Regions from separate parts of the Homo sapiens genome. Here all the other regions are linked to region 2. Evidence: fine-mapped expression QTL. A gene starts in region 2. Each other region holds a variant in brackets. All regions are shown on one strand. Distances are from middle to middle.

Region 1 (6,255 bases), 83 kb after region 2:
AATTCCTACAGGAAGAACATATAAGAAATTAACATCATTCTACTTTTTAAAACAGAGCAACTAATTTGTAAGCTGAGGGACATCTGTGGATACAATGTATTGTCATTTCTGCCTGACATTCAGGAATGTGCATTCTGGCTATCTTGGTGGAGAAGAGTGTATAATATATGACTGGATGCTATTGTTGTCAGATGTACCCAGATTTGTTGAAACAAACAACATCCATTCTCAGCCTGTGGGATGGTCTCTGGTTGAGGCAGAGGACTCTGTCCTGGACCTTGACTTTGTCCTGTTCAAGAATTTTATCCTTGACTCATATGAAGAAAGAATATAGAATGAGAACTGTTCGTGGGAAAAGATCTGGGAGCCAAAAGATACAGCAGCTACAGACAATGAGAGTTCAGAGGCAGGCAAGGTCTAGATTGAGTGTAAAGAACTTGCCTGTGTGCTGTTGGGTCTGAGTCTGGAGTCGGTGGCAGACTTACCATTTAAGGAAGACATTGAGAGTCAGGGCTGTGGTCAAAGCAGGTCTTCAAGGTGGTTACAACACTGGAAAGTGAGCATTGCACAAAATTATGGGGTGATTTATGGAAGGGTAGAGAAGAGAGAGTTTTATTCAGATCTTGGAAGATATTTTATATAGAAGTGTGACTGAGTAGTTCTGAGTGGCACCAAAGGCCAGAAATAGTTCTCCAAACCCACTCTTCTTCACTCTTCACTCTCTCAGTTTATAGCAACTCCATTCTAACAGGCCTTCCTCTGAGCATCCTACAAAAAGATCAGCCCATCACTCTTTTTTTCTCCTTACCCATCTCCCTACTGTGTTTTTCTTCATAGCACATGTTAGCACTAAATAACTCTGTGTACTTATTTTTAGGCAGCTTTTGAGAAGCAGTATAAGTTGGTGTATGATGCTAGGCTGTGGAGTCTGACTGCCTGGGTTCAAAGCCTAGTCCTGTTTCTTTCCTGTAACTTTAGGTACGTGTGTTAACCTCTCTGAACTCTATTTCCTCCTCTATGAAACAGGGGATAAGATAATAATTGTATCTACTTTGTAGGGTAGTGCAAGCACTAAATAAATTAATTCTTGCAAAGGACTTAGAAGAATTCCTCCCTAAGTACTCAGTAACCATAACTCAGGTGTTGACGAAGGGGCTGGTGGGTCCTTGATTGGGAGTGAGGTACAGTTTATCTCTGCTTTGGTTGGGATGTTGGACTGTCAAGATGCTCTGTAGTTTCTGAAGAGGGAAATGATCTTATAAAGTGACCAAGGTCATCACTGGGCAAGAAGTGCAACTGAGGAACTATTGAGTCCACTGACCTTATAAGGTGCCAGGTCAGACTCTTCTGGGTTTAAATAACAGAAATAGAATCTGGGGCTTGCAACTCCTTGGGAAGCTGAACAATCAGGCATGACAAGCATGCAGGAATTGTTACAGTAAGTAGCTAGTCAGGTGTGAGCAGGGCAGGAGGTGGATCTGCCTAATAATGTGGGGCAACCATCAGGTGATGATCAGGTGGTTTTCAACTGTCTCTCTAAAATAATAATTGGTCACAGCCAGTGCCAGGGAAAGGCAGTCTCCCTATAGATAGAAAAAACCTGAAACTGGTGATCAGTAGCTTCCTGATAAAATTTCAGGAGTTGGGCGAGTGAGCTCAAGCATGTGCATTAAGAGGCAAAATGGTGGAGTTTAACTTGTATATGACCTTCTGTGGGCATTGCACCGGAATGGGAAGAACGCCTCAAGTGAGCATGTGTAAAGACACTGACGTTCCCCTCCCAAGCACTAGCAGGCCATTACACATGCAGAAAACCCACCCCAAAGGAAGAAGCAGGGAGAAGGGATGCAAGACCCCAGAAGTATGCCAACATATAAAACTCCAAGCCAAAACATCAAATCCCACACTTGTCCTCCAAGACACTCGCTTAGCCCTCTTCCAAGTGTACTTTACTTTCTTTTCATTCCTGCTCTAAAGCTTTTTAATTAACTCTCACTCATGCTCTAAAATTTGCCTCAGTTTCTTCTTCTGCCTTATGTCCCTCAGTCAATTTTTTTCTTCTGAGGAGGCAAGAATTGAGGTTGCTTCAGACTTGTACACATTCGCTGCCGGTAACTCAGATACCCATCACTGAAAACAGAACCGGGTTGGCTCCTGTGGGTCATGAGGCAGGAAACCAAGGTGCTTTTTTTCATAACTCATAGCTTCATTGGACGACTACTCTCTAAGTCACTAGGTTGACTTATGGCTGAAAGAAATCTGTATCTGGCACCATCTGGTGTTTGAAGGAAAGGAAGTGCTGCTGTCAGCATTTGTTCCAACACTTCACCTTATCATGACACTAAGAAAACCTCAAGCTGGCAATGACATCCAAAGGGGTAGAAGCAGTTTTCTAAATGGTACTGGTATCCCTACTGGCATCTCTGGAAGAAAGAGTTCAGTTGGCTCCTGTAGTATGTAGGAGGCAGACTCTCTCTTACCAAGATTCACAAAAATGAGAAATTCTTCCAAATAGAATGTGGGTTTCTGTTATGGTTTGAATACGTCGCTTTCAAAATTCAAGTGGTGCCAATATGACAGTATTAGGCGATGGGAGCCTTTCAGAGGTGATTAGGCCATAAGGGCTCCTCTGTCATTCATGGGATCAAGGCACTTATTAAAGAGGCTTCTGCCAGCATTCAGTTGGCTTGCTAACCTGCTCTTCGGCTCTCTCTTGCCCTCCCACCTTCTGCCATGTGAGGTTGCAGCAAGAAGGTCCTCACCAGACCAAATACCAGGATTTTGATCTTGGACTTTCCAGTCTCCAGAACTGTGAGAAAATAAATTTCTGTTCTTTATAAATTACCAAGTCTCAGGTATTTAGTTTTAGCAGCACAAATGGACTAAGACAGTTAGTTGCTGGCCAGCTGGACAGTGTGGCAGAAGTCCCCTGTGTACTGCCCCACTTCCCCACCACATGAATGCTCATATTCCCATTGAGCTCCAGGTGTTGGGAGGACAGGCTTGCCCTGCAGATCTGGCTCATACTGTGGATTTGCGCTCAGTCCCCATTCAGCAGCTTCTCTTTTTGCTAGTTCTTCAACTCCCAGTTATGCTGGTTGGTGATATGTAATGTGTCACTTTGCTGGCACGAGATTATTTAGTTTTCATGGTAGCCTTAATAATCTTGTGACACCAATTACTGTTCTATAATGGTAAGAAAAATAATGGCTACCATGTTAAAAAATGTATCAGATACCAAGCATGGTACCTGGCTGTTTACATGTGATATTTCTTTTAATCTTCATTTCCTTGAGGAAGATATAATTTTTTCCATTTTGTAAGTGAGGAAACGGAGGTCAGTAATCATTAAGTAACTTTCCCAAGGTCCCAGAGCAAGGAAGAGTAGGAGCTTGGATTTCTAAGCCTTTGTCTGACTCCAGAGCCTGAGCTCTAAACACTGTACTATATTCTCCCATCATGCAGATGGGAAAAAGAAAGGTGAATTTCACCATTACCTTTGTAAAATGCCAATAGTAGATTCCTTAGGCTA[G/C]AGCTTGCTCTTCTCTAACTCACTGTAATGTTTACTTTTGAAGTAGAGAAACTCCGTAAGCATGAAACCAATGTAAGCTTGCCCTCCAGCACAGCCACATAGATACGCTCAAACCACACCAGGCAGACATAAGCCACCCAGTCAAGGTGGACTGTGAGAGGGGCAGGTGGCAGTGTCAGCTCTAATATCTTGTCCTGGCCACAGTCTTTCTTTCCCTACCTGGAAGAACATGCAATGCATTGCCCGCTTCCTTTCCCCTGTCTTGCTTGTCTTGGTTTTTCTCTTCTCCTCCCTTTCCCTCTCCCTCTCCTCTTCTCTCTTTTCTTCCCTTTTTTCTTCTCTCTCCCTCTTGCTTTCTTTCCTTTCTAGCTTAACAATATTCCCCACCTTATCCCCTGGAATTTTGCCCAGGTACTTTAGAAGAATCTCCCTCCTTTACTTCCTTTTCTTTTTTCCTCCTTTATCTCTTTTATTTGTTTAGTCCATTTGTAGACCATTTTTTAAATTATCATTGATAAATGCATGAATATTGCCATCAAAACATCAGTGGAAAGGAAAGTTCTATATCTGAGGGTGAAATTAGGCAACTGGTATAGTCAGGATCAAAAATCCTGGGAGTCATTTTAGAAAAGCCAGGTCTGGCGTGGTGCCTCACTCCTGTAAACCCAGCACTTTGGGAGGCTGAAGCGGGTGGGTCATTTGAGGTCAGGAGTTCGAGACCAGCCTGGCCAACACGGTGAAACTGAAAAAAAAAAAAACCAAAAAACAAAAATTAGCTGGGTGTGGTGGTGGGCTCCTGTAATCCTAGCTACTTGGGAGGCTGAGGCAGGAGAATCGTTTGAACCCAGGAGATGGAGAGTGCAGTGAGCTGAGATTGTGCCAGTGTACTCCAGCCTGGGTGACAGCGTGAGACTGTCTCAAATAAAAGAAAAAAAAAAAAGAAAATCCACACAAGTTTTTAGATACATCTGAATACAATTTTAATGAAAACTGCTTTTTTCTCAAGCACTGAAATGAGTAAAAACATTTAGTGATGGGCAGTCGGCTAAGACTGGGAAAGCAGAAAAATAATTAAATAAGAAAAAAATCATGCACTCAAAGAACTCCCTATCTAGTTTTACCCATTATTTAAAATCATCTTTGACATTCATTCCTAGTATCAGAGTTATTTGTCTCTCCCTACTAGGTGACTTTTCTTTCAACTACATTTTGGATGGGAATTTTTGCAGGTGGTTTTGGAACGCAGCCACCTTTTATAAAAACAATTCTATGGGAAAATGCATTTTTAAGTTCACAGAAATGGACTTGGACACGAGTGGAACACAATCCCTTTGTACATGAAGGCTGCTCTGTGAGCTTCATTGGACGACTACTCTCTGTCACTAGGTTGACTTACGGCTGAAAGAAATCTGTATCTGGCACCACCTGGTGTTTGAAGGAAAGGAAGTGCTGCTGTCAGCATTTGTCCCAACCTTTCACCTTATCATGACACTAAGAAAACTCCAAGCTGGCAATGACATCCACAGGGGTAGAAGCAGTTTTCTAAATGGGACTGGTATTTCTACCAGCCATTCAGTTTGATCTTTGGGTTTTAGCTTTATGTCTGTCCTCTTGTTACAGCCCTTCCCTGCCACCTTTCCTGGCTCCTGCCACTCTGTGACACTTTCCTCTACCACGAGTGGGTCACTTTATCCACAGAAATCATGTGGTGGCCTGGGAATGCTGTAGCTGTGGAGTGGCCGGCAGGGGAAGGGAGACGAGGGCCCCTGAGAATCTTGGTTGTGCACTGACAGCAATTGGAGCAGGGTGAAATAGATAAGGGCCATGAGAGGGCTGTGTCAGCTGTGGCTAGCACTGTTAGGATGGTAATGATGATGATGATGCCAGATGGAAAGCTTGGGCAGGGAAAGAATGGAGGAAAGGAAAGAGGGGAGCGTCAGATTCTTCTGTTACTGGAAGGCTCGTGAAAGAAACAGCAGTACTGGGTATTTCATAATACATGCCACTGGGTGAGAAAATGAGTTTCCTGAAATTATTATTTTAAAAATGGCAGTAAAGAGAGTCTACTTAAGTAAAATTAGTCATGAAAAGTATGGGGTCCACAAATCTGGAGGTAGATTTAAATCAGGCAGAGGGCCCAAAAGAGGATGGGGCAGTTTGATAGATTATTCTCTTTACATTTCCTCTAAGCTTTGATTTTTTTCAAAACATCAATGCTGTGACCATGGACTTATGGAGATGAGGTTGGGAGGTGGTAAGGAGAGGAGAGCTCAGAATGTGTAGATCTCTTAGCTGAAAGAGCTGCTGGTGTACAAGGGAGGTGACTGCATAGTTATTTATGAGACCATCGGCAAACTCGGAGGCATCTTGTTTTTTGAAAACTATCTTCAGGAAAACCAGGGCTCCCTAAATATTATGGCACATAGCACCATTTTCTGAACACTTATGAATGCTCGGAAGATATATAATTCTGTCAGAGAGTTACTTATTTAGCCAACCTGTGTTTACTCAATACAATTCTCTGGCTAACAGAATAGGAGGCAGGGGGTGAGAGAAAGGTGTAAAAATAAAGATAGGGCCCCTTTCTTGAGAAGCACATATTCCTTATGAAAAGACGATACTAATACGTAGGGATCAATGAAGGCAAGATTGGAGGCAATACATAAGGCAATATGGTACCATGTATAAAACCTGTAAATGGAGACCAACGGGGAAGGCCAAAG
Region 2 (6,255 bases):
TCTTTCTCTTGTCTGATTGCTGTAGCTAGAACTTCTAGTATTATGTTGAATAACAGTAGTGTAAGTGGTCATCCTTGTCATATTCCAGTCTTAGTTCTGTTTTTTCTTCATTTCTCCCTTACTGGTGCTTCAGAACACTTCACATTTCTGTATTGGAATTCCACAAGCGTGTCTTTCTGTCCCTTCTAGATTGTAAAACTATTTGAAGGAAAGATTTTTATCTTACTGGTAGACTGTTTGGGGAGACATTGTTCACTGTATCTCACAGCGTTTTCCTCATAAAGATTTATGGGGGAAATTTCTCACAGGTCAAGGCTTGCTTTTATTTTAGGGACACAGTTTAATGTATGCCAGATTATATTCCCCCACTTTGCATTGGCTGCTTGGAAGCTCAGAGCCACAATTGTGTCACAGTTCTAAGCAGCGCCTTCTCAAAATCTCCACTTATATACCTAATAGTCTTTGCATTAGTCTCCTATTGCTGCTGTACCAAATTACCACAAACTTAGTGGTTTAAAACAACATAAACCTATTATCTTACAGTTTGGGGAATCAGAAGCCCAAAATTAGTTTCACTGGACTAAAGCCAAGGTGTCAGCAGGACTATGTTCCTTCTGGAGGCTTTAGAGGATAATCTATTTCCTTATCTTTCCCAGCTTCTAGAGACTTCTTACATTCCGTGTCTTCTGGCCCCTTTTTCCATCTTCAAAGCCAGGAGTGTAGCATCTTCTCTCCCCTCTGACTTCTGCATCTGTCCTTACATCTTCTTCCTCTGACTTTGATCCTCCTGCCTCCCTCTTATTTTTGCGATTGCACTGGGCTCACCAGATAACCCAGGTTAATCTCCCCATCTCAAGACCCTTAACTGAATCACATTTGAAAAGTCCCTTTTTCCCATGTGAGGTAATACACTCACAGGTTCTGGGGATTCGGAAATGGGTCTCTTTTGCAGGGGGTCCTTATTCAGCCTGCCACATTCTTTTCAGTGTTAGCTGTATGAAACTGAAATGTTTGAGTCTCCTAACCAAACTGTACCTCTGCCTACCCTTCCACCTCCCTCACCTTCCATATCTCAGTAAATGGCCCTGCCATCTAATAATTGTTCTGATCAGGCACATGGTTCTCTGCTCTCCCTCACCCCCATATCCAGTCTCTCATGTTGTTCTGTCATATAGACTTCTAAAGTGTATCTAGAACCTGTACACTTCATTTTTTGGCCACTGCCACTACCCTAGGCTAAGCCATCACCAGCTCTTGCCTGAATTGCTGTCATAGCCTCTAATTTGTTCTTTACTTCAGCTCTTGCCCTTTCCTAGTCTATTCTTCACAAATCGATTAGATTTTTTGCAAACACAAAGCCAATCATGCTGTTTTCCTACTTAATACTCTCCAATTGTTTCCTATCTCATGCTGAAGAACATTCAAATTCTTCATCATGACTTCTAAGGCCTCATGGTCTGGCCTGGCCCTCTCTCAAAGAACATCTCATTCTGCTCTCTTTACCACCACATTCTGGTCACACTGGCCTCCCTGGAGATTTCTACCTGGCTCAAGCCATGCTTCTCACATGTAATTCTTCTGCTTGGCACTCTGCCAACTCTTCCCCGACTACATCTTTGCTGAGCTTTTGGTCTCATCTGAAATGTCTCCTCCTCAAAGAAGCTGTTCTATACAACTCCATCTAACTGGAGTTCCCTACCCTGCTGTGCACAAATTTTTCTTGATCACTTCACCCTTTTAAGTAGCCTTCATAGACTTATCACTATTGATAATTACTTAGTTGTTGTTTACTTTATATCATTTATTTTCTCCATCATATTGTTAATTCTGTAAAGGCGCAGGCCATTTCTGTTTGTTCCTTGCTGTATGTGATGCTTCATAGGTATGTAGCATAGGAGATCCTGAATACATTTTCTGTCATCCTTACCCTGACTTTATCTTACCTTTTTGGGTTTGTTTTCCTTATGTTCTTGTTTTCTTACTTTGTATTGAAATGAGAGAAAAACTCACAACCCCCAGGCTCTACTCAAGGTTGGGGGCCAGAGGAGGTAGAGCTTCCTCTGCTCCTGTCTCTTCCACCCGCCATCCACTCACTCGCCATTAGTACTGTGTGTTGTGGGCAAAAGAAAAGCTTTCTACTAGTGTTTCTTCCCAGGGAATGTGGGATTCATCCTGGAATGCCAAAATAAGGATGAATTGTCTAAAGAGAAAACCAGAATGCCTTTCTGGACCAAAGATTGAAATTGCTCTGCCTAATAATGTAAACAGTTTATTTTCACTGACTGGGGGCAGAGTGTTCCTTAGCGAGATTAATATGATACTAGCTGCTTTTTTGTCTTCCTCTGGCAAAGGCTAGAGATAACAAAAATTGGGGTTCTAGACTCTAGGGAGGAAGGACAACATTCACAGCTCCATTTGTAGGAGGTGAGGAGGGCCCTTGAGAAAAGTGGGGTGTGAGCGAGTATAGGACATTCAGGAGAGAGATGATCAGTAGGGGACACCCTGGGAGAAAGAGATTCTGAGCTCTTTTCTTTTCTCCGGAGCCCTGACCCTTGAGCAGTGGCACACAGAGTGTCTTCCTTTATTCTCTGGTACAGTAGTCATGTTTCTTGGCACAGTGCCTTGGACCTTCCATACATGCTTTCTTCCCTCCAGAGCCTTCGTCTAAGATGCTGGAGAGTAGCTTATAGCCTGGGCATCAAGTTTGTCGATTCTCCCCAGGACCCTTTTCTTTATAGGTGCCACATGTCATGATTTATGCACAAACATGATTTGCCTGACAGTGCAGTCTGGGCCTGGAATAATTTTAATTAATGGGAAAATGGTCCTCAATACACCGATTAGACCTCTTCAGGTACAACAAGATAAAAGCCTGATAATTTGGATGGAGTACTCTTCTTAAATATCTACTCTGTGCACGGCAGCCAATGGGAAAGCCAGGCTCTCTCCCACCTGATCCAATGAGTAATTAAGAGAGGGCTTTTTCTTCCCTACCTCTCCCCTGCCTCCACCCCGCTCCCCAACTAAAGCTTAACAGGTTGGTGGCATAATGTGGAGACTTTTAAGGGGTGTCATCCTAGGAGCTTAGGCAAGAGCCAGGGTATCTTCTCTCCGCTCCCCAAGCACTGTTCAAGTGGGTTTGAAAAGCAGGCAAGTGAGGGAAGGAAGAAGCTAGAAGCAGGCAAGTTGGGTAACGGCTCTCGGCAAAGTTCGAGAAGTGCCTATGGCCATGAGTGAGCTGGGCACTCGGAAGCCCAGCGATGGCACTGTTTCTCATCTGCTCAATGTGGTGGAGAGTGAGCTTCAGGCAGGGAGGGAAAAAGGCGACCCTACGGAGAAGCAACTTCAGATCATCCTGGAGGATGCACCTCTCTGGCAGAGATTCAAGGAAGTCACTAATGAGATGATTGTGACCAAGAATGGCAGGTGAGTTTATCTGCCGCCCCGCGTGGGCTGGCAGGGCTTGGCAGGAGAGATGAGACCCCTTGAATATTGAAGAGGCTGCCGCTCTTCACTCAGAGGCGGCGGGATCTGATTAAACATGCTTACAGGAACGACTGTCTCCAATGGCTTTCCTCCAGCCAACTTAATTAATTTATCTGAGATCATCAGAGGATGAAGCCACCTGTCTTATGTGCATTTTAAATGGAGAAATTCTGGGGAAATTACCATAAAGTGGGGGGCATGCCCCATTGGGATGGGAAAATGGACTTAAATGTCAGAAAATAATATTAATTTGTGACTAGCTGCATACCCTATCGCAGACCTGAGCCCCAACTCCGTCCAGATAAGGTGAAAGACAACTTTATTTGGAAGCTGGATGATCTCCTCCTAAGTATAGCAAACTTGCCAGAAATGTTTGGCTAGTTGAAGATTGGAAGCAAAAGGGCAAATGTAAACTCATTGCCTATCACTTCATCTGCTTCCCCGTGTGTGTTTGTGGTGAGTGTTCATTTGAGATTGTGTGTGTTTGTGATGATATGAAAGCTGTTGCAGTAATAGTGGATGAAAACATATTATTCTGCTTTAGAGAAAAGAAGATGCCTTCTTTCTTATCAGTGCAACAAATTTAGGGATTAACTGAAACTGATCTCTGGTGGCATTTCTCAGATTCTATTAAACCTAGTCTGCTAAGGGGCTGTCCAGGTAATATTAGAAGATTTCACTTCGTAGAGGAGACGCAAATATTTTGAAACAAAATCTCACCGCTCGCAGCTTGGCCAAACTGGCTCCAACATTCAGCTGGTGTTCACATAGCTTTTCATACACATGGTCACAAAAGTACAAAATGCTGAAAGGCATTTTCAGTAGGCTTAGTTTTGGCTGAACTCTAATTATGACACCCTCGAGAGAATTCTGATAAAAGAGAAGAGCCGAGGCCATCTGAACTTCTTTCTGTCAGGCTTTTGTCCTTGTGCAAAGTGCTTCCGTTCCTGATGTCTCGGTTTTCTATATTTTAATAAAGCACAGTATAGAAAATGAACTATTTCTTGTCAATCTTGAAGAGTTATGAACTCGAGAGCTGTTACATGGCATTAAAATGCTTTCTAAAATGAAAGCCATACCTGAATTAGGGCATTTCAAGAAATTGCGATTATACCAGTAGCAGGAATATCAACCTTGCTTGATTTTTATATTTTCTTTCTCAAAATGGGTTCCACACTTATTTCATATAGATTTATTGCTTTTAATATTGTTACTGTAATTATAGTTCCTTCTCTTGACCTGTATTTACACATTATTTTTAGCTTCTTTCATAGAAGAAAACATAAAACATAGTTTTAATTTCACAGAATTACACCAAATTCTTAATTGGATTTAGTCTCTGACCCTTTAAAAATGGGCAAAGATGCAACTGTAAAAATTTTATTATATCTGATTATAGGTAGAACATTCTGCTTATTTTTCTTTGTATTATTGGATACTAATTACAGTAATACCTAGCCTTATGCTATTGATTGGGCTGTCAAATTGGCCATTTATTAAAGTAAAAATAAGTACAATTACCAAGTCAATATATGGTTCATCTATTTCAATAAGGAATAAATAATAAAAGTTTCTGAAACCATGATAAATTCCAATTTAATAATATGTTACATTGGAATGTACTTTTACCATTTAAGAAAAGTTTTATCTTGCCTTTTTATTGCCTATGTAATTTTCCCCTATATTTAAAATGTAATATTCTTCACATCAGCCCAGTGTGGTGGTGTGCTCCTGTTGTCCCAGCTACGCAGGAGGCTGAGGCAAGGGGTCCTTGAGCCCGGGATCAGTCTGGGCAACACGGTGAGACCCTGTCTTTAAAAAGCAAAATGAAATCCTTCATCTTTAACGTCATTTAATATTAGCTACATGAACAATATTCTTTGTAGAAAAAGTCTGATTGCGGTGAACTTGGCTGTTCTTATCTATGGATGTCCTGCTGTGTTTGCCGTCTTCCTATAGATGAAATCTTTTTCTTAAATTCTCCTAAGCTCTCGGAGCCCTTTAGGGTCAAGATTTTGCCAGGAGATAGAAAGTTTCCTTTATACTTTGATTAAAGAAGGGAAGACAAGTCCATAAGAAATTGATGTACTTAATAATGAATGAACTTGGTCTGAAATTACCCCCAACCTCTTAGTTTCTCAGATTAAACCATTAGTCACACTTTACCTTTGTTAATATAGACATCTTTCTTGCTTCATCTTCTTTACTCCCTTCTTCCTTCTCTCTTTTCTCCCTAACTATTTATTCCTCTATGCCTCCTTTCTACCCATTCTCCTATGTCTATAGACTCTTTGTGTCTCCTTCAAATCCTTGCCCTCCACATCAACTCCCGCACCTGGTGCAGGTAGATTTGTGGCCCTTCCCTGTGGAGAAGAATGTTCCTGGTATGATTACCCAGTCCTAGCCTTTTTCATTCATAATGTCACCTGGGCCCTTTTTCATTGACATTGTCACCTTGACTTTTTAAAAAAGCATCATTTGGGGTGGTAACTCCTATACACTTGAGGTCTCATTGTTCTGCACTAAAATAGCAAATCTTGAAATAGCGTAAGATGGGCCGATGAAAGAGTGAAAAGACTCATTGTCAAGTGGAGATCTACTTTCACATATATAAATAGGAAGCTTGCCTCTGACATTGATCAGAAGCTGTAAAGAGAAAGGCTTTTCTCTGAAAAACACGGAATTATCTCCAGAAACTGGGATCCTGATGTTGGCCTCTCTTCTTTCGTTCCTTCCTTTCTCTCTCTCTCTTCCTCCTTTTCTTTCTTT
Region 3 (6,255 bases), 680 kb after region 2:
CAGAGACAATTTGACTTCCTCTCTTCCCATTTGAATACCCTTTATTTATTTCTCTTGCCTGATTTCCCTGGCCAGAACTTCCAATACTATGTTGAATAGGAGTAGTGAGAGAGGGCATCCTTGTCTTGTTCTGGTTTTCAAAGGGAATGCTTCTAGCTTTTGCCCACTCAGTGTGATATTGGCTGTGGTTTTGTAATAAATAGCTCTTATTATTTTGAGATACATTCCATGAGTACCTAGTTTATTGAGAGATTTTAGCATGAAAGAGTGCTGAATTTTGTCAAAGGCTTTTTCTGCATCTATTGAGACAATTGTGTGGTTTTATTTCATTGGTTCTGTTTATGTGATGGATTACGTTTATTGATTTGTGTATGTTGAACCAGCCTTGCATCCTAGAGATGAAGCCAACTTGATTGTGGTGGATAAGCTTTTTGAGTGCTGCTGGATTCGGTTTGCCAGTATTTTATTGAGGATTTTCACATCAATGTTCATCAGGGATATTGGCCTGAAATTTTCTTTTTTGTTGTGTCTCTGCCAGGTTTTGGTATCAGGATGATGCTGGTCTCATAAAATTAGTTAGGGAGCAGTCTCCCTTTTTCTATTATTTGGAATAGTTTCAGAAGGAATGGTACCAGCTCCTCTTTTTACCTCTGGTAGAATTCAGCTGTGAATCCATCTGTTCCTGGGCTTTCTTTGGTTCATAGGCTATTACTTACTGCATCAATTTCAAAACTTGTTATTGGTCTATTCAGGGATTCGACTTCTTCCTGGTTTAGTCTTGGGAGGGTGTATGTGTCGAGGAATTTATCCATTTCTTCTAGATTTTCTAGTTTATTTGCATAGAGGTGTTTACAGTATTATCTGATGGTAGTTTGTATTTGTGGGATCACTGGTGATATCCCCTTTATCATTTTTTATTGTGACTATTTGATTCATCTCTCATTTCTTCTTTATTAGTCTTGCAAGGAGTCTATTTTGTTAATCTTTTCAAAAAACCACCTCCTGGATTCACTGATTTTTTTTGAAGTTTTTTTGCGTCTCTGTCTCCTTCAGTTCTGCTCTGATCTTAGTTATTTCTTGTCTTCTGTTAGCTTTTGAATTTGTTTGCTCTTGCTTCTCTAATTCTTTTTAATTGTGATGTTAGGGTGTTGATTTTAGATCTTTTCCGCTTTCTCCTGTGGGTATAATTTCCTTCTAAACACTGTTTTAGCTGTGTCCCAGAGATTCTATTATGTTGTGTCTTTGTTCTCATTGGTTTCAAACAACTTATTTCTGCCTTAATTTCATTATTTACCCCATAGTCATTCAGGAGCAGGTTGATCAGTTTCCATGCAGTTGTATGGTTTTTGAGTGAGTTTCTTAATCCTGTGTTCTAATTTGATTGCACTGTTGTCTAAGAGACTGTTATGATTTCCGTTCTTTTGCATTTGCTGAGGAGTGTTTTATTTCCAATTACGTGGTCAATTTTAGAGTAAGTGCGATGTGGTGCTGAGAAGAATGTATATTCTGTTGATTTGGGGTGGAGAGTTCTGTAGATGTCTGTTAGGTCTGCTTGGTCCAGAGCTGAGTTCAAGTCCTGAATATCCTTGTTAATTTTCTGTCTCATTGATCTGTCTAATATTGACAGTGGGGTGTTAAAGTCTCCCACTATTATTGTGTCAGAAACTAAGTCTCTTTGTAGTTCTCTAAGAACTTGCTTTATGAATCTGGGTGCTCCCTAGGAGTGTTTTTAATTCAACAGGTGTCAAAGTCTCAAGCTACTAGGATAAAACTGCCACACTTTGTTATCACCCAAATGAAAAGGGAGGATATTGGGGGCATTAAAGCTTATCTGAAACTTTGGAATCAGACAAGTCTAATATTACATTTTAGCTTCTGTCACTTAAGAGTTTTATGGGCTTGGGAAACCCACTTTTAATTTCCCTGAATCTGTATTTGCTCATCCTTAATTAGGATATCTCTTTCATGGTGTTTTAAATCAGTGATCCCCAACCTTCTTGGCACCAGGACCAGTTTTGTAGAAGACAACTTTTCCACAGATGGGCTCAGGGGATATGGTTTTGGGATGATTCAAGAACATTACATTTATTGTGCACTTTATTTCTATTATTATTACATTGCCATATATAATACAATGATTATACAACTCACCATAATGTAGAATCAATGGAAGCCCTGAACTTGTTTTCTTGCAACTAGAAGGTCCCATCTAAGGGTGATGGGAGATAGTGACAGATCATCAGATTCTCGTAAGGAGCATGTAACCTAGATCCCTTGCATGTGCAGTTCACAATAGGGTTCATGTTCCTATGAGAATCTAATGCTGCCATTGACCTAATAGAAGGTGGAGCTCATGTGGTAATGCGAGTTATGGGGAGCAGCAGTAAATACAAATGAAGCTTGGTTCACTTGCCTGCTGCTCACCTCCTGCTGTGCAGCCCCATTCCTAGCAGTCCACAGATGTGGGGTTGGGAACCTCTCTTTTAAATAAGTAAATTAAGATCATCCAATCCCAATGAAGGGCCTGGTTCATGGGTGCTTGATGGATGTTAGTTTCCTTCTTCTTTTTAATTCATCAGATGCCCCTCACATAAGTGGACCACCATAGCTGGCAGCCATTCACATTAATACTGAAAATCAATCAACCAACCAACATGCATTAAGGGCCTACTTTATGTAAGGCCCTGTGTGGGACCCCAGGGCGATATACACGACCATGTCTCCATTCAAGGAGATGTCGACCTTATTAGGGAATCAGTATGTGAACATATGAAAAACTAAATGACAATAAAAGATAGTTTATCAACACCAAAGTCATAAAACTCACCCTAATTGCCATATGACTCACTGCCCACTTTCAAGAGGTAAAGGGTCCTATAAGCTAGATTGAAATGGATGGTTTCATGCAGGCAAAGGATTTGAGAAGGGCTTTGAGAGATGGATTAGATTTAGGCAACCTGTGAGGAGGGAGAGTTGTAGTTTATTCTGAGCAAACTTTTGGATATTTCCCCCCAGTGACTTTCAAACATCTCAGGTACTTTTAGGGGAAGTGTTCTGCTAAAGACAGGCAAAGTCAGCCACGTGAACACACCACTAAACATCGCCATCTCCACCTCCTCCCCTCTGACAGCCTGCCTCCTTGCCAGGCTGCCGCCCTCCTCCTTCCCCTATCTCAACATGAGACAAAACAGCCTTTCTTTTTTTCTGGGATTATTTAGAAGCAGTTTCCCATAATTACAGTAATCTTATCTTCTTTGAATTCACCAAAATTACCCCTTTTCTTTATATTAGCACCACTGCTACATGACAGACATTATTTGTAAGCTTTGTGCCATGGTGCAATGTTGTTTTTTTAAAGTGACATCTGCTCAAATAAATTAATGTTCCTATCTAACTGACTCACTTGGTGAGAACATGTCCACATGCCAATGTGAATGCGAGGGGAGTGGGGGGAAATGCAGGAAGAGGAAAGCATCTGGAAGAATATTTTCTGGTGTTTTAGATTAAGAATAAGACTATTTTATTTCCTACAGAAAAGCAGTGGACATTAGTTGAAGCAACAGCAATGACTAATTGTCTCATAATGTCTGAAACATGCCACGTTTCAAGATGAGTGAAGATGGTCATGCTTTTCAAGTACATTTTGATGAACTTGGTGATTCTCAC[C/T]GACATTTCCTTGTTCTCAACAACCTGAAAATTTCTCGGTTCATCTACCCTCCAGCTATGCCCTTCTGAAGTGAACCTCTTTGAGAAAGCGCTGAGATTCCATCTGCACCTTCCTGCATTCACAACCTGTGTTTTCACACATCCAGTGGCTTCTGCTCCCAGAAATCCATCCTCAAATGGCCCTGAGAAGTCAGAGGAGGATGTGGTTCCCTGTTAGGGTCCATTTATTCATCATTTAGTCTATTTACTGAGGTCCTACTATGTGCCAGGCCTTGGGGACACAAAGATGGTCCTACTATGTGCCAAGCCTTGGGGACACAAAGAGTTCTGTCCTCCAAGAGCTCACAGTCTTATATGGCCATGATCAAGAAAAGTACCAGGGCACCATGGGAGACTGACACTCAAAGCAGAGCACAAGGAAGGGGGTAGATAAGGCTTCTCCGAGGAAGTGACACCTGAGTGGGATGTAAAATATTCATTTCTGCTTACAAACTTCAATCATCTCACAATGACCGTTTCATAATATCCAGACTCCCTCGTCTGGATTTCCAGGCTCCGTATACACTGATCCTCTAAACATCCCTACCCCATCTCTCTCCCCACCATCATGAATCACCAGCTCCTGCTGGGAAAGCCTATTCCCTTGCTTCCCCTGCATACCCCTTTATTCTTAACTCGGGGTATTTGCTCTCTTTATTCTTAACTCTGGATCTTTGCTCATGTTTTCTGTCTAAAATGAACCATCCACTACCACCTCTACCAACACCATTAGCAATAAGTATTCAGATACACATCGGTTTCAGGGACCAGCTTATTTTCTTTATGAAACTTCCTGCAATCACCCCAGTTCTTTACGAAACTTTCTCTATCCACCTCAAACATTTTAGAGCTTCTCTGAATTTCCATAGTACTTAAGCTATAAGTATAACTTAGACAATACATGTAAAGTAATAGTTACAAACTCATAAAGCACAATGCAAGCATGAGGTGTGGCCATTATCTTAAACTGATAAGGGAAATTTTGATGTCCCTCACCAACACTAAATTTGTTTTCTTAGGCAAGTAGTTTCTTTAGCTATAAAACTGAGAAAAACATATTTACATTGCAAAACATATTTACATTACATTATTGTGAAGATTAACCAGATACATTGACATGCATACAAAATGCCTGGTTTGTCATAGGCAGCTCTTGATGGAATGGTAATAGCAGTAGGAATGTTGTTATTTCTCAAAGAGGATAAGTATATTTGTTCCTTTTTGTTCAATAGACCAGGTTAGGTGTGTGTATTAAGGTGGTAAGAGGCAGAAAATTTGTCTTATGAAAAAAGTTTATCATGAAGGATAAAAGTAAACATCCTTCAGAGCTCTGCAACTTTTATCTCAAAACTCCAAAGAGAATTATAGTATTGTAATGGTTGATGATTCCCCATTTCCTGTGTCACTGGTTCCTGGCAGGAAGACAATGGCTTGGCCCTGACACTCCCTTCCAGACTATGGGATCATTGTTCTCTAGTAGACAGTGTTTATCAAAAATGGAGGCACTTGCTGGCTGAGGGAAGTAGAGATGAAGGAGAGAGCAGAGTAGCAGCTGCTCTTTTTGGAAGGTAGTGCGTTTCTGACCCTAGAATCAAAGGGTTCTCCTGTGTGGAACTTGGATGCTGAGCCATCAGCAAAACTTGAAGAATGGTTGTCAACGTCGGACATTTTACAGCCCGCCCAGCCAGGACATTTGACAATGTCTAGAGACATTTCTGGTTGTCACAACTTAGGCAGGATGGGGGGATTCTATTGGCACCTAATGAATAGAGGCCAGGGATGCACTAAACATCGTACAATGCACAAGACAGCACCTCAACAAAGACGTTTCTGGCCCAAAATATCAACAGTGTTGAGGGTGAGAAACCCTGAGTTAGAAACAGTTGTAACCCACCATCCTAGGTTCTGCTAATCCTAGCTGAGTGATCAGAGCTCCAAACTGTTTCTCCCCTGCGTCTTCTCTAGACCAGAGTCCAGAATGACCACACTGGAATTAATTAATGGAAATCAGTCAGCAAAACTTCAAGATCTAGTACAAATGTGACTTCCTCTATGAATTCACCCTAGGTAGAGTACCCCTTCCTGTGTCAGCCAGGGTCTGACTGCCTTAACTACTTACAACTGGAGTGTTTTAATATAAAGAATTGATTCCAGGTGATGGAAAAGTTAAACCCAAACAGGATGGTGAAGCAACCTAGAGATTAACAGCCAGCAAGAAGCTATTACCACCCAAGGACTGGAAAGAAGGAAGTCAGTGTTACTAGAACCCGTGGCCAGCTGGAGCAGATCCATAAAGTGCAGTCATCACTGCAGCCACTTACAAGACAAGCAGATAGGAAGAAATGCTTCAGCTTCTCCCTTTTTCCCATTGGCTGAATCCAAGTAAGGTCACTGACAGGGAAACCTAGGAGATGCAACCTGTAAGATCAGTCCTCAAACAAAACAAGAGGAATGAAAAAAAGAGGAGGAACAGGCCAGGCACGCTGGCTCATGTCTGCAATCCCAGCACTTTAGGAGGCCAAGGCGGGCAGATCACGAGGTCAAGAGATC
Region 4 (6,255 bases), 45 kb after region 2:
TAACTATAGTCAACAGTGCTCTAGTACTCTAGAACTCCTATCTAATATAACAGTGCCGCAATGAACATCCTTGTACATTTCTCTGGTGAACATACATGAGAGTTTCTGCAGGGTAGATACCTCCAAGTAGAATCCCAGACTTAGAATACGTGTAGCTCAACTTTTGCAGGTATTGTTCAATTGTTCTCTAAACTGGTTGCATCAATTTACAATGTAAGCAGTAATAAATAAGTTTCCAATCTTGCTATCACCCTGTGTTACAAAGCTACATCATGTGTCCCACCACGCCCAACTAATCTTTTTTATTTTTCGTAGAGATGAGGATCTCATGATGTTGACCAGGCTGGTCTCAAACTCCTGGGCTTAAGTAATTCTTTCACCTCGGCCTCCCAAAGTGCTGGGATTACAGATGTGAGCCACCATGTCTGGCAATACACCATACTTTATTTCTCTTTTTGATAGGCGTTCTAAAAATGTATGTATTAGAAGTCCTGTGTTTGTAAGGCAGAAACCCTTAGCAACACCATAAGCAGCAAATACACTTGTAATGTCTCGGATATAAAAGAAACTTAATACAAGTCTCCCTAAATTTGACAATTTTAGAAATATACATGAAATTAGCAACAACTGCTTGTGACATGGAAAGAAACCGTTCTAAAATATTAATACCCCCAAATCCCACCACGTTAAATCTTGATTAGTCATTTTAGAGATAGACTAAATTACTTTTCTAGTTTCTCTATGGAAAATAATATTACAAAAATCACTGTATGAAAAGGCAATCAGAGTATATAGCTAACAAACATTGGTACTAAATGAATGTAATTGTTATGTCATTTCTGGCAACATAGAATCAAGGCACCTCCCAGCCTCTCCTACAGATGTGTGTGCTATTTCCATGCCTTTTCCTGCCTTATGGTGGCTGCTGGCAATTTTGGCATTCCATGGCTTGTAGATGCCGTACTCCAATCTCTGCCTCCATTATCACCTGGTGTTCTCCCTGTGTGTCTGTCTGTTTCCTCTTTTTATAAAGACACTAGTCACTGGATTAAGGCCCATCTTAATCCAGTGTGATCTCATTTTAACTAATTATACCTGCAAATATGTTATTTCCAGAAAGGTCAAATTCTGAGTTTCTGGGTGGATATGAATTTTGAGGGACACTATTCAACCCAGTACAGAGTATAAGCAAACTGTCCGTGTAAATAATTCAGTGTAATCCACTTAAAATGTACCAGGGTAGAAAAGCATCTTCCCAGTTCTGTGCCTCCATGGGGTGATATTTACATTCTTGTTTTTATGCAAAGACCCAAGAGCATACAAATTCTATCCTTCCTCCCTCCCTCACATTTATCCTCTGTAGACATTGAAAGTCCTGTGAAAAAGCTGAAGCCACAAATAATGTGCTCCAATACGGTGTGACTTCCAGGAAGTGCTCTTAAAGGGAGGGTTGAGAACTTCTTAGCCTGGATTCCCTTTGCTTGTTGGCGGAATGCAGATGTAATAATTAGAACTTGAGCAGTTATCTTGAACCATGAGGTAGAAGCCACAATTTGAGAATCAAATTATCTTGAACTATGAGGTAGAAGCCACAAGATAGAAGGACTATGAGTTCACCATACTCTTTGAGTTATCATATCAGCCCTAGACTTCTTACTTCTGGGATTTGTTTTCATAGGACAAAATAACCTTCTATCTTAAAGTAAATTATTTTGGGTTTTGTGTTATTTGCAGCAGTGAAACTATTCCTAAGTTTTACAACTGCTTGTTGTTTTTTAAAAAATTTAAATAATTGTAAATATACTCATTTTATATGCTGGTCTGATTATCATACTATTATTCAAAGTTCTTGGGATCTAATTCTGCAGTTTATTGTGTCTATTGACTCACACTCATGAATGATTTCTTATTGTATATTTGTACTTTTGATGGGTAGCTCATCTTCGTTGGAGGATTTCTCTCTCTGTCTCTGTCTCTCTCATTGCCTGTGATTTGAGTCATGAGTGTTTTTTCAGAATGGCTTATATTTGCTTTCATTCTGTACCTCTGACGTATCACCATTTGTTCTAGCTGCTATTGCTGCATAACTAACCCCCTCAAGTGTAGTGACACAAAACCACCATTTAATTAGCTCATGGAGTCTACTGGACAAAACTTCAAAAAGGGCACAGTAGGGACGGCTGGTCTCTACTCCGTGGTACCTGGGACCCTAGCTGAGAAGAACCAAAGCCTGGGGGCTGAGTCATATAAAGCCTCCTTCACTCACATGTCTGGTGGTTGACACTGAATGTTATCTGGGACCTCAGCTAGAACTGTTGGCTGGAATGCCTACAGCCTACATGTGTCCTCTTGAAGTGACTGGGCTCATGGCATGGGGCTGGGTTCTAACAGTGAGCATCCAGAAGAGAGCCAGAAAAATCTGTCTTACCTTTTATTACCTAGCCTTGGAAGGCATAGGGTATCACTTCTGTCATGGTTGCAGCTCACCCAGATTCAAGGGTGAGGGAAAGTGGACTCCATCTTTTGATAGCAGATATGTCAAAGGGATTTCGTAAGAAGAGCATGTGGCATGGGAAATGTTCTTATGGCCATTTTTGAAAAAAACAAAACAAAACAAAACAATCTACCAGATCAGATCAGGACCAATTTTAATGTTAATTTCTTACCTTGGGGTTTTCTTGTCTCCACATGTTGAACCAGTGCTAAATCCAGTCTCAAGTTCAAGATTTTAAACTATCCACCCCTAAATTTGAGATCTCAGTTTGAGATTTTAAACTATCAAGGAACAATTTTTCTTCCTCCTAGAGCCTAGACAAAAATGGAGAACCTTCCACATAATTCTTCTTGTATCAGTTGGTGGTCTTTCCCAAGGTCAATTGACAATGTAGACATCTGAAGGTCTTGATTTTTGTAACTGCCTCAGTTTTATATTTTTAGGCATCTTTCTCCTTCACTGGCTGAAGCTCCCCAAGGAC[A/G]GGCCCTGTGTCTCCTTCATCTTTGTATTTCTGGCAACTTACACAAATGCCCATTACATTGTAGAGGCTCAGTGAGTGTTTCTGAACTGAACTAAACTCTCTTTCCTTTATTCTGATATCATGTTTCTGACCTTTACAGAGTATCCAATTATTCCTGCTGACCTCATTATTTTATCTTTTTTTTTTTTTTAAAGAGTTATTTGTTGTTTGAAGACTTTCTGTGATTACTGGAGGTACAGGACCATAGATGTCCAATAAATTAATCATGTTATGAGTTTAGCATTTAGTTGATTCCTTTTATTTGCAATGCAACATGCATAAATATTTCAGTGTAATGCACTTAAAAGGTACCAGGGTAGAAAAGCATCTCCCCAGTACTGGGTCCCCATGGAGTGATGCTTACATTCTTGTTTTTATCCAAATACAAAAGCAAGTACAACTTTCATCTTCCCTCCCACCAATTTATGCTCTATAGACATTGCAAGTCCTGTGAAAAGGCTGTGCTATGCTTAGTCTCAATCCTGACTGAGTGCTATCAGTTATCACTTTAGCAAAGCTGGTGTGACTTGTGGATACAAAAAATGAAGAGTGGAAGATGAATGAAGTTAGGAGAAGTAAGCAACACAGAAATGCATTTTAAATAAAATTTTATGATCGCTAAAGATAAACTTACCATTATTCATGGGAGAATCTTCTTAATAACAATTCCCAGCATAATCTTTCTGTGTCTCTCTCCAATCCCTCATCAGATGTTTCCCATTGGTTCTGATATGATTGACTCTGAAGTTTCCATATTAATGGGGAGAGTGAGAGAATTTAAAAAATTGACAATTACAAATAATTCCCAAAACCCACTTTAATCATTAGTTTAATCTGTTGTCTCCCACCTCCAACTTTATTGAGGATTGCTTGTTTAAGCAGCAAACATTGGCTTGGAATTTCATCCCCTTCCTTTTCCTTTAATAATGTTAATGGTAATAAAAATAATAATTGATATTTATATTGTGCTTTAGAGCTTACAATACATTTTTCACATTATTTGGACAACTAAGCTGTGAGAGACCCATAAAAAACTGTCTCACAACACTGCTGTCATTCATGTTCTTATTCTCATATTTTTGGATTATGGCTATGGCTTCCCCTCTCTGTCTTTAGGCCATCTTACAATTGCTATGAGCATCATCTTCCTAAAGTTCCATGTGAGTTGCGTCACCACTCTGCTCAGAAACCTTCAATAACTCACTACTAGAAATATAAAAGCCAATTTTCTTAGCCTCCTGCGGAAAACCTTCTAAAATTGACCTCAACATGCCATTCCAGTTTAATTGCCCAGTATTCTTTTACATAAAACTTATGTTCTAGCCAATCTACTATTACCCTTTCCACATCTTAGTTTTGGCTCTTACTGTTTCTCCACGTGGAACTGCTTTCTTTAATGTTTTCCTATTAAACCGCATTTAACTTTTAAGGTCCAATACACAATCCGTCTAACTTATGAAGCTCTCATGGCTGACAAAACAGATCTTTCTCTCTTTAAGTTTCTTTACCACATTGTTCATATGATACTTATTTTTGATTAAAAAGAAATGGTTTATTTGGGCCGGGTGTGGTGGCTCACACCTGTAATCCCAGCACTTTGGGAGGCTGGGCGGATGGATCACAAGGTCGGGAGTTCAAGGCCAGCCTGAGCAATATGGTGAACCCCATCTCTACTAAAAATACAAAAATTAGCTGGGCATAGTGGTGCACACCTGTAGTCCCAGCTACTCAGGAGGCTGAGGCAGGAGAATCGCTTGAACCCGGGAGGTGGAGGTTGCAGTGAGCCAAGATCGCGCCATCGCACTCCAGCCTGGGTGACAGAGCGATACTCCATCTCAAAAAAACAAAATCAAAAACAAAAACACCCCCCAAAAAACCAAAAACCAAAAACAAACAATTATATAGGTATGTGTCTTTGTACAGGATCCTAGCTTCTGTGATAGATTAGAGCCCTGAATCTCAGTGAATTCACACAGTAAGACTTCAGTTTTTACTTATGTGACATTCTGACACGGCTTCTGGATTGAAGAAACCATTTCGTGGCTCTTCCATTTTTAACACAGGCTCTCAAGTTTCCCTTGGTGGTAGTGGTGGTGGATGTCTTCTCTCTTTTACCTCAGCCAGCAGGAGAAAGTACATAGACAAAGTGTATATGGATGATTCTTCTCAGCAAACACTGGAAACAATGCCTATTGCTTCCTTTCATATTCCATTAGAAATCCATCACAGGCCACGAGAGGGGGTGGGAAATGTCTAGGCCTGTGCCCACGAAGAAGAGGAAACGTGTTTGGTGACCAGCTGGGCCGTTTCTTTACAGATTGTGATAATTTGCCTCTTTTCCCATTGTTCCTTTATCAACCCTTAAAGAAAGACACTTTCTCTTTAGGAGATTCTGTCCCCTTGAAGAAGTTTTGGGGACAAAAAATTCTGCCACCTCTCCATTTCACCTGCTTTTTTCTATGGGAGAAGAAATAACATATAGGGAACCCAGTGACAATCAGATGCCCACTGGACCAGGTTAAGCAGAGATTAAGGGAGGGACCCAGGTCGTGTCGTGCCTTAAATTGAACAATTTTGGAAATGCAAAAATTATGACTATTGATTTGATAGTGTCCCCCTAACATCTTGGACAGATCTTTGCAAGTAAGAGCTCTGATACTTAAACCTCCTTAGCTTAGTAATAATCCTGTCTCTGGCTGCTACCACATTGGTAAAGCCACTGAATCCCCCGTCTATACTCTGCCACCCTCCAGTGTGTAAGGAGGCTGCACTCCCCTTTCTCTTGTTCTCTAGGTCAGATCAATTGCCACAGGCCTGCCCTAAGGTCTGAGTTGAGACAAGAGCTTCATTTTGATTTCAAGTCTTAGCTGTATTCTCTGATTCAATGTAGTAGCTTTGTCATGTGTGAATTTTGCTAGGCTGAACTGTATTTCCCAGAATCTTTTTCTTATATATTGCCACTTAGGGGATCCCCCAGAGAGAGTCTAATGGGAAGTGAAGCAGCATCCACGTTTCAGCTCATACAAGTTCTCGCTTATCCATTGGAGCGAGGCGGTGGCTCGGCCTGCAATTGCTCCAGCCTATCTGACTCCTCCTTCAGCTTCTCTGACTCCTGGGCCAGGTGTGTCTGTTTAGTTCCAGTGATGATGGGCCCTGGTTTCTGTAGGACACTCATACTATTCATGTTGAGGTAACAAGAACTGACACTAGTTATTTATCTGTGTGGGTTTTGGCTCATGCT

The links. PIP is the estimated chance that this variant, and not a neighbour inherited with it, causes the effect.
Region 1: its variant is the best candidate, but not a certain one, in a credible set for the expression of TBX19 in whole blood (INTERVAL, PIP 0.61).
Region 3: its variant is the best candidate, but not a certain one, in a credible set for the expression of TBX19 in NK cells (Gilchrist 2021, PIP 0.50).
Region 4: its variant is the best candidate, but not a certain one, in a credible set for the expression of TBX19 in whole blood (INTERVAL, PIP 0.67).

The regions. Positions count from the first base shown.
Region 1 is chr1:168,360,959-168,367,213 of GRCh38, forward strand. No RefSeq gene overlaps it. Among named protein-coding and RNA genes, the nearest start is that of MIR557, 11 kb to the right of the region's middle. The variant G/C (reference allele first, on the strand shown) is at 3,533.
Region 2 is chr1:168,277,868-168,284,122 of GRCh38, forward strand. It overlaps TBX19 (T-box transcription factor 19), which reads left to right and starts at 3,010. Exons shown (of 8, transcript NM_005149.3): 1 at 3,010-3,426. The coding sequence starts at 3,224.
Region 3 is chr1:168,955,637-168,961,891 of GRCh38, forward strand. All of the region lies in intron 3 of LINC00970 (long intergenic non-protein coding RNA 970), which reads right to left. Among named protein-coding and RNA genes, the nearest start is that of LINC00970, 130 kb to the right of the region's middle. The variant C/T (reference allele first, on the strand shown) is at 3,667.
Region 4 is chr1:168,322,931-168,329,185 of GRCh38, forward strand. No RefSeq gene overlaps it. Among named protein-coding and RNA genes, the nearest start is that of TBX19, 45 kb to the left of the region's middle. The variant A/G (reference allele first, on the strand shown) is at 2,976.